Linked DNA regions of Homo sapiens: region 2 is linked to region 1. Evidence: fine-mapped expression QTL. Tissue or cell type: whole blood. Region 1 holds a variant in brackets; the other region holds the start of a gene. All regions are shown on one strand. Distances are from middle to middle.

Region 1 (5,152 bases):
CCAAGTTACACAATCAAAAAGATAACAATCTCTTTCCATTTGCTTTTTGCAAGGTTTGTGTTATTTCAGGGCAAAACGTAGAGCAAGTCCACTGGCAAATCTGGGGGCTAGTGATTATTTTGTTTTGATTTTTATTTTTTTAAATCAGACATTTTAAACACTACAATGAGGTAACTCTAGAAATCAAATTCTGTCCCCCTTTCCCAGAGGTGTTTTATTTATTTATTTATTTATTTTTTGACAGGGTCTCATTCTGTCACCCAGGCTGGAGTGCAGTGGTGTAATCACAGCTCATTGGAGCCTCGACTTCCTCGGCCCCAAACAATCCTCCCACTCAGCCTCCCAAGTAGCTGGGACTATAGGCACACGCCACCATGCCCAGCTAAGTTTTGTATTTTTTGTAGAGATGGAGTTTCACTATGTTGCGCAGGCTGGCTTTGAACTCCTGGACTCAAGCAATCCACCTGCCTTGCCCTCCCCAAGTTCTGGGACTATAGGCTTAAGCCACTGTGCCGGGCCTCCCTTTCCCAGGGTGTATTGTTGCTTCTTGTGGCTTATAGTTGCTTGTTTAATGACTTTTCTAAATAATTTTTATAAAGATTATTCTTTGTCATGTGTGGCTATTACATTTTCTGTCCAGTTAGCTTAGTGGTCAGCCAGTAACTTGAGATTTCTTTAAACATCTGGAGCAAAAACAAAAACCAAATAAACTAGCAAAAGCAAAAACAAAAACACCCCTGATCTTTGCAGGTTGGCTGTGTTGGATCACTTTCTCAATGCTTAGCCAGTCTATTCACAGCTCTGCTTTAGCCTTCACTTTCTGCATGCATGGAAGCTAAAGATGAGCCAGAGGTGAAGTTTAGGATTTTCTCAGGTCTCCTCTGAACATGCGTCCAGCCTTGGGCACGTGAGTGGACTTCTGGACTCCCTGGTATATACAGAGATTTCCTCAGCCTTTTTTCTCCCACATATCTTTCTCCATATATCTTTGCATATTTCCCAGACTTTTTGATGTGTCTGCTGCTTGCCCCCTCTGTTAGCCCTTGCTCAGGTGGCTGCAGCTAGTATGTTTGCCTTTAATTGTTTACAGCAAACACCAGCCAGAAGGCTGTTCCAGCCCTGAGAAAGTTCTAAGGTGTACAAAACAAAGGCAAGCCCCTGAGTGTGAATCCCTCAGGCAGCAACCAGACAGGTCAAAACACACAACCACAATTCTTTGATAACAAGGCCTATATTGCCCCTTCTGGCATGAGCAAGCTATATAACTGGTTATAAAAAGTATTACATTAAATTATGGGGACAGAAATGACTCTACTAGTGAATGAAGAAATCATTTAGATTTTATGGTTAGTAAGTGGAGGTTTGAGAGTAACCATCCGATCTTTATTAATCTTAGTGTATATTATATTTCTAGAATTTGGACTCATATCAAGATGCTCTGAAGAAGAACAACCCTTTAGGATAGCCACTGCAACATCATGACCAAAGACAAAGAACCTATTGTTAAAAGCTTCCATTTTGTTTGCCTTATGATCATAATAGTTGGAACCAGAATCCAGTTCTCCGACGGAAATGAATTTGCAGTAGACAAGTCAAAAAGAGGTCTTATTCATGTTCCAAAAGACCTACCGCTGAAAACCAAAGTCTTAGATATGTCTCAGAACTACATCGCTGAGCTTCAGGTCTCTGACATGAGCTTTCTATCAGAGTTGACAGTTTTGAGACTTTCCCATAACAGAATCCAGCTACTTGATTTAAGTGTTTTCAAGTTCAACCAGGATTTAGAATATTTGGATTTATCTCATAATCAGTTGCAAAAGATATCCTGCCATCCTATTGTGAGTTTCAGGCATTTAGATCTCTCATTCAATGATTTCAAGGCCCTGCCCATCTGTAAGGAATTTGGCAACTTATCACAACTGAATTTCTTGGGATTGAGTGCTATGAAGCTGCAAAAATTAGATTTGCTGCCAATTGCTCACTTGCATCTAAGTTATATCCTTCTGGATTTAAGAAATTATTATATAAAAGAAAATGAGACAGAAAGTCTACAAATTCTGAATGCAAAAACCCTTCACCTTGTTTTTCACCCAACTAGTTTATTCGCTATCCAAGTGAACATATCAGTTAATACTTTAGGGTGCTTACAACTGACTAATATTAAATTGAATGATGACAACTGTCAAGTTTTCATTAAATTTTTATCAGAACTCACCAGAGGTTCAACCTTACTGAATTTTACCCTCAACCACATAGAAACGACTTGGAAATGCCTGGTCAGAGTCTTTCAATTTCTTTGGCCCAAACCTGTGGAATATCTCAATATTTACAATTTAACAATAATTGAAAGCATTCGTGAAGAAGATTTTACTTATTCTAAAACGACATTGAAAGCATTGACAATAGAACATATCACGAACCAAGTTTTTCTGTTTTCACAGACAGCTTTGTACACCGTGTTTTCTGAGATGAACATTATGATGTTAACCATTTCAGATACACCTTTTATACACATGCTGTGTCCTCATGCACCAAGCACATTCAAGTTTTTGAACTTTACCCAGAACGTTTTCACAGATAGTATTTTTGAAAAATGTTCCACGTTAGTTAAATTGGAGACACTTATCTTACAAAAGAATGGATTAAAAGACCTTTTCAAAGTAGGTCTCATGACGAAGGATATGCCTTCTTTGGAAATACTGGATGTTAGCTGGAATTCTTTGGAATCTGGTAGACATAAAGAAAACTGCACTTGGGTTGAGAGTATAGTGGTGTTAAATTTGTCTTCAAATATGCTTACTGACTCTGTTTTCAGATGTTTACCTCCCAGGATCAAGGTACTTGATCTTCACAGCAATAAAATAAAGAGC[G/A]TTCCTAAACAAGTCGTAAAACTGGAAGCTTTGCAAGAACTCAATGTTGCTTTCAATTCTTTAACTGACCTTCCTGGATGTGGCAGCTTTAGCAGCCTTTCTGTATTGATCATTGATCACAATTCAGTTTCCCACCCATCGGCTGATTTCTTCCAGAGCTGCCAGAAGATGAGGTCAATAAAAGCAGGGGACAATCCATTCCAATGTACCTGTGAGCTAAGAGAATTTGTCAAAAATATAGACCAAGTATCAAGTGAAGTGTTAGAGGGCTGGCCTGATTCTTATAAGTGTGACTACCCAGAAAGTTATAGAGGAAGCCCACTAAAGGACTTTCACATGTCTGAATTATCCTGCAACATAACTCTGCTGATCGTCACCATCGGTGCCACCATGCTGGTGTTGGCTGTGACTGTGACCTCCCTCTGCATCTACTTGGATCTGCCCTGGTATCTCAGGATGGTGTGCCAGTGGACCCAGACTCGGCGCAGGGCCAGGAACATACCCTTAGAAGAACTCCAAAGAAACCTCCAGTTTCATGCTTTTATTTCATATAGTGAACATGATTCTGCCTGGGTGAAAAGTGAATTGGTACCTTACCTAGAAAAAGAAGATATACAGATTTGTCTTCATGAGAGAAACTTTGTCCCTGGCAAGAGCATTGTGGAAAATATCATCAACTGCATTGAGAAGAGTTACAAGTCCATCTTTGTTTTGTCTCCCAACTTTGTCCAGAGTGAGTGGTGCCATTACGAACTCTATTTTGCCCATCACAATCTCTTTCATGAAGGATCTAATAACTTAATCCTCATCTTACTGGAACCCATTCCACAGAACAGCATTCCCAACAAGTACCACAAGCTGAAGGCTCTCATGACGCAGCGGACTTATTTGCAGTGGCCCAAGGAGAAAAGCAAACGTGGGCTCTTTTGGGCTAACATTAGAGCCGCTTTTAATATGAAATTAACACTAGTCACTGAAAACAATGATGTGAAATCTTAAAAAAATTTAGGAAATTCAACTTAAGAAACCATTATTTACTTGGATGATGGTGAATAGTACAGTCGTAAGTAACTGTCTGGAGGTGCCTCCATTATCCTCATGCCTTCAGGAAAGACTTAACAAAAACAATGTTTCATCTGGGGAACTGAGCTAGGCGGTGAGGTTAGCCTGCCAGTTAGAGACAGCCCAGTCTCTTCTGGTTTAATCATTATGTTTCAAATTGAAACAGTCTCTTTTGAGTAAATGCTCAGTTTTTCAGCTCCTCTCCACTCTGCTTTCCCAAATGGATTCTGTTGTGAGCAAGAGTTTATATGGCTTCATGGCAGCAAGGGAACAGTCAACTTCAGCATCATATGCACCAGTCCTCGGAGTGCCCTGTGAATCATATTGGTCTTTGGGTCAGTGTCATCATTCTCTTCAAGTCTGGGGCTTGGGGAAAAAATTAGATCAGCTACGGCATATAAAAAAGTCTTTTGTTTCACATATGTGTAATAGCTTATTTAATTTTTTATCCTGCTACACAAATATGTAATTAACCAATGAGGACTCATGACTTGATAGTGTATGTATGTAAAGGGATATATGGACTTAATCATAAGCTGTTGAGGTGAAAGACGTGGATCCACCTGCTTTCCAAGAAAACTCGGCCAAATTTATTTGCAGCTGGATATTGAATGGGACTTTTCTGGTTGTCTTAGAATTCTGGCTAAAGGCTCAAAGCTGACGAAAGACAGTAACTGCACCAACATGATACTAGACACAGCCAGTCTGGACTTATCAAAAGAGCAGAAAGAGACCAATGACTCCCAGTCCGTATTATCCATCTCTAGAAGACTAGAGTCAAAAGCGTGATTAAAGAGTCATTAAGCGGAGGTTCTAGGCCATAGGGAGATTGCTTTGAATTTCTTGCAGACAAGTGTGAGGGACTCAGCATGGTAGAAGGTAGCCTGGCATCCCACTCCAAGACTGAAAGCTTGCAGAGTAACAGGAGCACACAGGTTCAGTGCAGCAGATGTGGTGTGGCTTGAGAATTCTTGGAAGAGCTTGATGAGTGTTTGCTGGAGTCCGAGGGTGGGCACTGGGAACACAGAGACTGGTAAATAGTGTTTGGCAAATACAAGTGCTTGATGAATATTTGTTGAATGAATAGATGAGTTCTTCCCCCCTGGGGAATTCAGGAGGTGAAAGGTTGGCTTGAGCACCCAAAATGGCAGGATGAGAGAAGAGAAGCACTGATAGCAACCTGCCCTCCCATTATTGACATGGTAAAAGGATGTGAATTT
Region 2 (5,152 bases), 40 kb before region 1:
TATCATGATGGGGGAAATGTAATCATTTTTCAGACTATACCCTTTTGTATGAAACCACTAGAAACTGTGTGTTTGAAATACAGAACTGTTTCTGAGCAGGGGCTGCTGGAGTCCACCAGGATTACAGTCATGACAAGCACTGTGTTTCCTGGGACGGTTTCCATCTCCGTCTGGGTGTTCCATAAGCCAGACTTAGAAACCTTTCCTGATTTATGGTTAGGAACACTGATCACTGTAGCCATGTCTCGTGGACTGGAGGCTAGGGAGACTCAACCCACAGAAACAAGGAGGCTGCTTCAGGAAACTCTAAGGAGAGGAAGGGTGGCATATAAAGAAGCCTTTGTGGGCTGGGAATAAGTTAGTTTTTCGTGAGTAAATTCATTCATCACCTAAAATGCTCCCAGAACTATGCAAGGTATTTAAGCAGCAACATCACAGCTCCAAAAATAAGTATAAAACAGAAGACATGGTCACTATCCTTCAGAAATCAATCATCTGTTTGAGGAGCTAACACAAAACAGTTAAAAAGTGATGCAAAACAGCACAGCAAATCAAGGACAGATGTGCCTGAACTAGACTGACCCTGTGCAAGGGAGAATCTTGAAAGTGTCTTTGATGTGGTGATTCAGGCCTGGTGGGATGAGAGCATGTGCAAATGTCCAAGCATCAGCGATGGACTGTAGTGATTCAGGACAGGTGTCTGAGAGGCCAGGACATGAGGCTGCATGGAGGAATGATGAGAGGTGGGAGCGATGGTATTCTGAGGTGGAAAGAGTTGTGTCCTGCAGGCGTCAAGGGATGTGGCCTCTGGTCCCAGTATCCCTTTGTGGGCACACAACTTGATCCTCACTGTGCTTACACCTGCTCCTCTGTAAAGCTAGGATGGACAAACTGATCTGGATGCTTTTTTTTCCAAACTCCACCTGCAGGACTGGGGCAAGTCTGTGATGATAGAGAAAAATGAGGACAAGATTGCAAGTTTTTCATAAATCTAAATTTATTAAATGTAAAGGACTGCCTTCATCTTTCAAGTTTAGCCTTTGTGCTTTTTCTTGGTATTAAAATGTCTTTCATTTTATGAAATAGTGACAGTGGATGGATTTTTTTAAAAAAAATGGCCTGACTTGGCAGCATAAAAATTTGGTTAGCATGATATCCTGTGTGAGGTCATCTCCCCCAGTTAAAAAAAAAAAACAAAAACAGTGCCAGTCAGCGAAGGACCAGGAATAAAAACTCTGGATGAGAGGCTCTTAATCAGGTTGTAGCAGTTTGTATGAGTTTGTATAAAGCTTGACAAGTCTACGTACCCAGGCTCCAGCCTATTCTCTGTGAGGCTGCCAGGCATTTTTGGACCTATTTGCTCTCCTGTTCAAAAACCATTAGGTGTAAATATCTTCACACTTCCCATCATAATCCAGCTCCAATCTCTCTCCACCTCTTGCAACTCTCAGTATCCTCCACTCCTGCCTCACCAGTCTTTTCTCCATTCCCCATAACTCTTCACATCTCCCTGCCTTTGCTTACGCTGGTTCCTCTGCCCCGGTGCTGCCCTTCCTCCAGCTGCCTGGCAAACTCCTATTCCTCTAGACACCCAGTGTCTAATGTTACCTTTCATTCTGAATTTTTCCTTAATCTGCCCCACTGCTTCCAATGAAATAACTGCTACCTCTTCTATGTTTTTGGCACTTTGCACAGATTTCTATTCCATGTATTTATGGAGTATTTACTTCTGCCATTCTGTCCTCCAAGACTGTGACCAACAGCACCTAGGTTGGTTTCTGTCCCTCAGATATTTACTGAATTGAAATACATTGTGTTTGATATTAATAAAAGAGAAACCATGTTTGATGTAAGCCTGGTCAAATAAACAAAGACAAGTTTACTTTTATGGTCTGAATCGCTCAGATTCAAGAAAGCCCCCTCCAACCCTCAAATTCCTTCTGCACTGTCTCACTTGTGCCTCAAATCCATCCCTAACGTCTCATTCCTTCACTTAAAGGTTACAATGTAAGAAGTTTATCAGATTCTTTCCCAAGCTCAGGCTTGATGGAAGAAAGGAGGGCGGGGACGCAGGCCTATGGGTGGGGTAGGGAAGGAGCCACTAGGCTGCAGAGAGGGCAAAAAGAGGCTCTGAGGATAGAGCCTGTCTCATTCTCAGTTGTCACAGGTTGGCTGAGGTCACAGGGAGTTCAGAGCACACTGATTTAAGAAGCCACCTGCCTGTGTCCTTCAAGATGTTTAGGATGGGAAATGATGGGATCAGTAGGGCATAGGTAATGCTCTCACAGCCCATAGAGAGATGTCTTCCTACTTAAGAAAAGGCAGTGACGTTCAGGCGCCTGGTCTGAGGTGCCTGGAAATACTCACCGGATGGCAGAGGCGAGGGCTAGCCGACTGGGTGGAGGGGGCCTGGGGATCTGCGGTAGGGAGTGGGACCCATCCCGGGGGCTGCGAGTGGAGGCGGTGCCTGCTTAGAGTGTTGGCTGGACTGGAAGAGCAGGCAGGGCGTGGGTCGGCTGTTGGGGGAGGAGTAAGGCGAGGGGAGCGGGGAGGTCAAGGCCTGAGCTCCCTGTGCCAAGGCCGAGGGCAGGCGCACCCTGGGACGAGGCCTCTGTCTTACAGGGACCTGCTCCCTTCGTGCCCGGGCTGGGGGACCCTGCAGCCCACCTCTGACTTGGCCCCGAGCCATTGGGGGCACTTTTCCAGACTTGCTTGGTGCCAGGACTGGATACTTTGGGAGATCCAGGCAGGCTCCGCGGAGGTTCACGCAGGCCGAGGGGGCAGACCCTGAGTGTGGGCGTGTGGGTGTGTGCATGAGCGTGGACCCGGAGCGACACACACTCACACACACACACTCACACGCCCGCACCCACGCAGGTCCCTCGGCCGCGCCGCCCCAGACCCTCACCCCAGAGCCGGGTCCTCCCTGACCACTGCTTCTCACTAACGCAGAGGGCAGGATTCGTGGGTCCCGGACGAGGCGCCAAGGTATGGTGTTCCCACCACCCCCGGGCAGCCGCCCCCGCGCTCGCCCGCCCCCCGGGGAAGGGGATGGGGACCGAGTGCCCGGGGCTCTTACCGCTCAGGCGGCCGAGTACGCGCGGGAGTGCCCAGCGGGTCCCGCCCCGCCACGTCTGCAGGGCCGGCGGGGACGCGGCCGGAGGGCGGGCGGCTGGAGAGGGGGCCCCGCCCCGCCTGCGCCCCGCCCCACGAGGAGCGCCGCGGGGACGCCCGGCCACCCCCACGCTGCGAGGGCCGGGCCCGCGCTGGGCGAGTCTCCTGGAAACTTGGCTTGTCCCACCCCTGTGCCAGCGCGGAAAGCCAGAGCGCGCCGCCTCTCCAGCCCAGGGCGGGTGGGTCTCGGGGTTCGCCAGATCCCTTTCCTTTCCTTAAAAGGGCTTGGAAAACCCCCCGCCGTGTCACTGGGAAGAGGTCGCTCAAATTCAGCTAAAGTTTGATCTCCTGATTCTGCGTTAAGCAGCACTCCCTTGCCCTGTCGGTGGGAGTGTGATAGATTTAAAACAAACAAACCCCAAACAAACAACGAAAACCCACTTTCCAGAAGGCCAGTTTGGAGCTGTGGGTTAAAACTCCGATGTATTAGCTTTGGCCTAGGAATTCCACATTTGTGAATTTGTCCTAAGTAGGCAGTCAAATGGGCAAATATGTATGTACAAGGATGTTTGTTGTAGTTGTTTCTGCGGGGGGAAGCCGGAGACAATCTCAATGTCCCCCAGTAAGATTGGTGAAGTAAGCTACAGTAACTTCAGACATCGAATATGTTGTAGCCCTTAAAAATGAGGATTCGTTGACATGGAGGGAAGGCCACATATGAAGGCCTTCCTCAAATATGGCTTAATATGAACTCAGATGCGGAGGAAGCGCAGTGTTTATAGTATTAACTAGTTTTGTAAACAATTTTGTATTTTCTATAAAAGTCGGAGGAAATACAATTTAAAAATAGTGATTCTTTCTGAGCGATGTGTTTAAGGCAGATTTTCTCCTCTCTCACTCCATCCCTTCTTCTTTTTGAAGAATTATAAATTCAAAGTTAAAGAAAAAATAGCCCTAGTCTCTCCCTTTCAATATCACTACCATTTTTTATAGTGTGTGGATCCTACCATAGTTTTTCTAAGCTTATATAAATACATGTATGCATAAACAGCTTTTTGTTTGCTTTTTTATAAAAATGGCGAGATGTTGACGTATTTTGTAAATTTCCCCCTATTTATTATATATTATAATCATCTTTCTTGGTCAATACATATCAACCAAAACCACTCTTCTAAGACTTGTCTTATATATTGCAATATGTTTGTAATTATATTTCATTCAATCATTCTCCTATTGACAATTAGTTTGCTCCTTATATTCCAGTTTCTTCCATATATATATTAATTAATTTATTAATTCATTTTTTTGAGATGGAGTCTTGCTCTGTCGTCCAGGCTGGAAAGCAGTGGCGTGATCTCAGCTCACTGCAGCCTCTGCTTACTGGGTTCAAGCAATTCTCCTGCCTCAGCCTCTTGAGTAGCTGGGATTACAGGTGCGTGCCACCACACCCGGCTAATTTTTGTATTTTTTAGTAGAGACGGGGTTTCACCATGTTGGCCAGGCTGGTCTCGAACTCCTGACCTCAGGTGATCCACCCACCTCGGCCTCCCAAAGTGCTGGGATTACAGGCATGAGCCACCGTGCCTGGCTATATTTCTTATTTAATATTTTTATTAAATATTTTTATATTAATAATTTTTTAAGCTACTGAATATTTATTTTATTTTATTTTTTAGGAGGACAGAGTCTTGATCTGTGGCCTAGGCTGCAGTGCAGTGGCACCATCTCCATCTCCTGGGTTCAAGCGATTCTTCTGCCTCAGCCTCTTGAGTAGCTGGGATTACAGGTGCGTGCCACCACACCCGGCTAATTTTTGTGTTTTCAGTAGAGACAGGGTTTTGCCATGGTGGCAAGGCTGGTCTCGAACTCCTGACCTCAAGTGATCTGCCCACCTCGGCCTCCCAAAGTGTTGGGATTACAGGCGTGAGCCACCACACCCAGCCTGTCATTTTTAAATTCATAGAAAAACCAGAAAGTTATCTTAATGTGAGAGTGGGTGGAAACTGCTTTAAATTGAGATCAATAGCCTTTTTGAATT

What was found. PIP is the estimated chance that this variant, and not a neighbour inherited with it, causes the effect.
Region 2: it holds the start of FAM114A1, and the variant in region 1 is fine-mapped to the expression of FAM114A1 in whole blood (TOPMed, PIP above 0.99).

What each region holds. Positions count from the first base shown.
Region 1 is chr4:38,825,800-38,830,951 of GRCh38, reverse strand. TLR6 (toll like receptor 6) reads left to right here. Exons shown (of 2, transcript NM_006068.5): 2 at 1,415-5,152. The coding sequence starts at 1,479. The coding sequence ends at 3,869. Among named protein-coding and RNA genes, the nearest start is that of TLR1, 24 kb to the right of the region's middle. The variant G/A (reference allele first, on the strand shown) is at 2,871.
Region 2 is chr4:38,865,762-38,870,913 of GRCh38, reverse strand. FAM114A1 (family with sequence similarity 114 member A1) reads right to left here and starts at 3,108. Exons shown (of 15, transcript NM_138389.4): 1 at 3,080-3,108; 2 at 2,368-2,516. It overlaps MIR574 (microRNA 574), which reads right to left and starts at 2,882; the gene lies at 2,787-2,882. It also overlaps a transcript of TLR6 not described here. RefSeq lists an enhancer at 1,974-2,557 and silencers at 2,765-2,814, 2,865-3,344.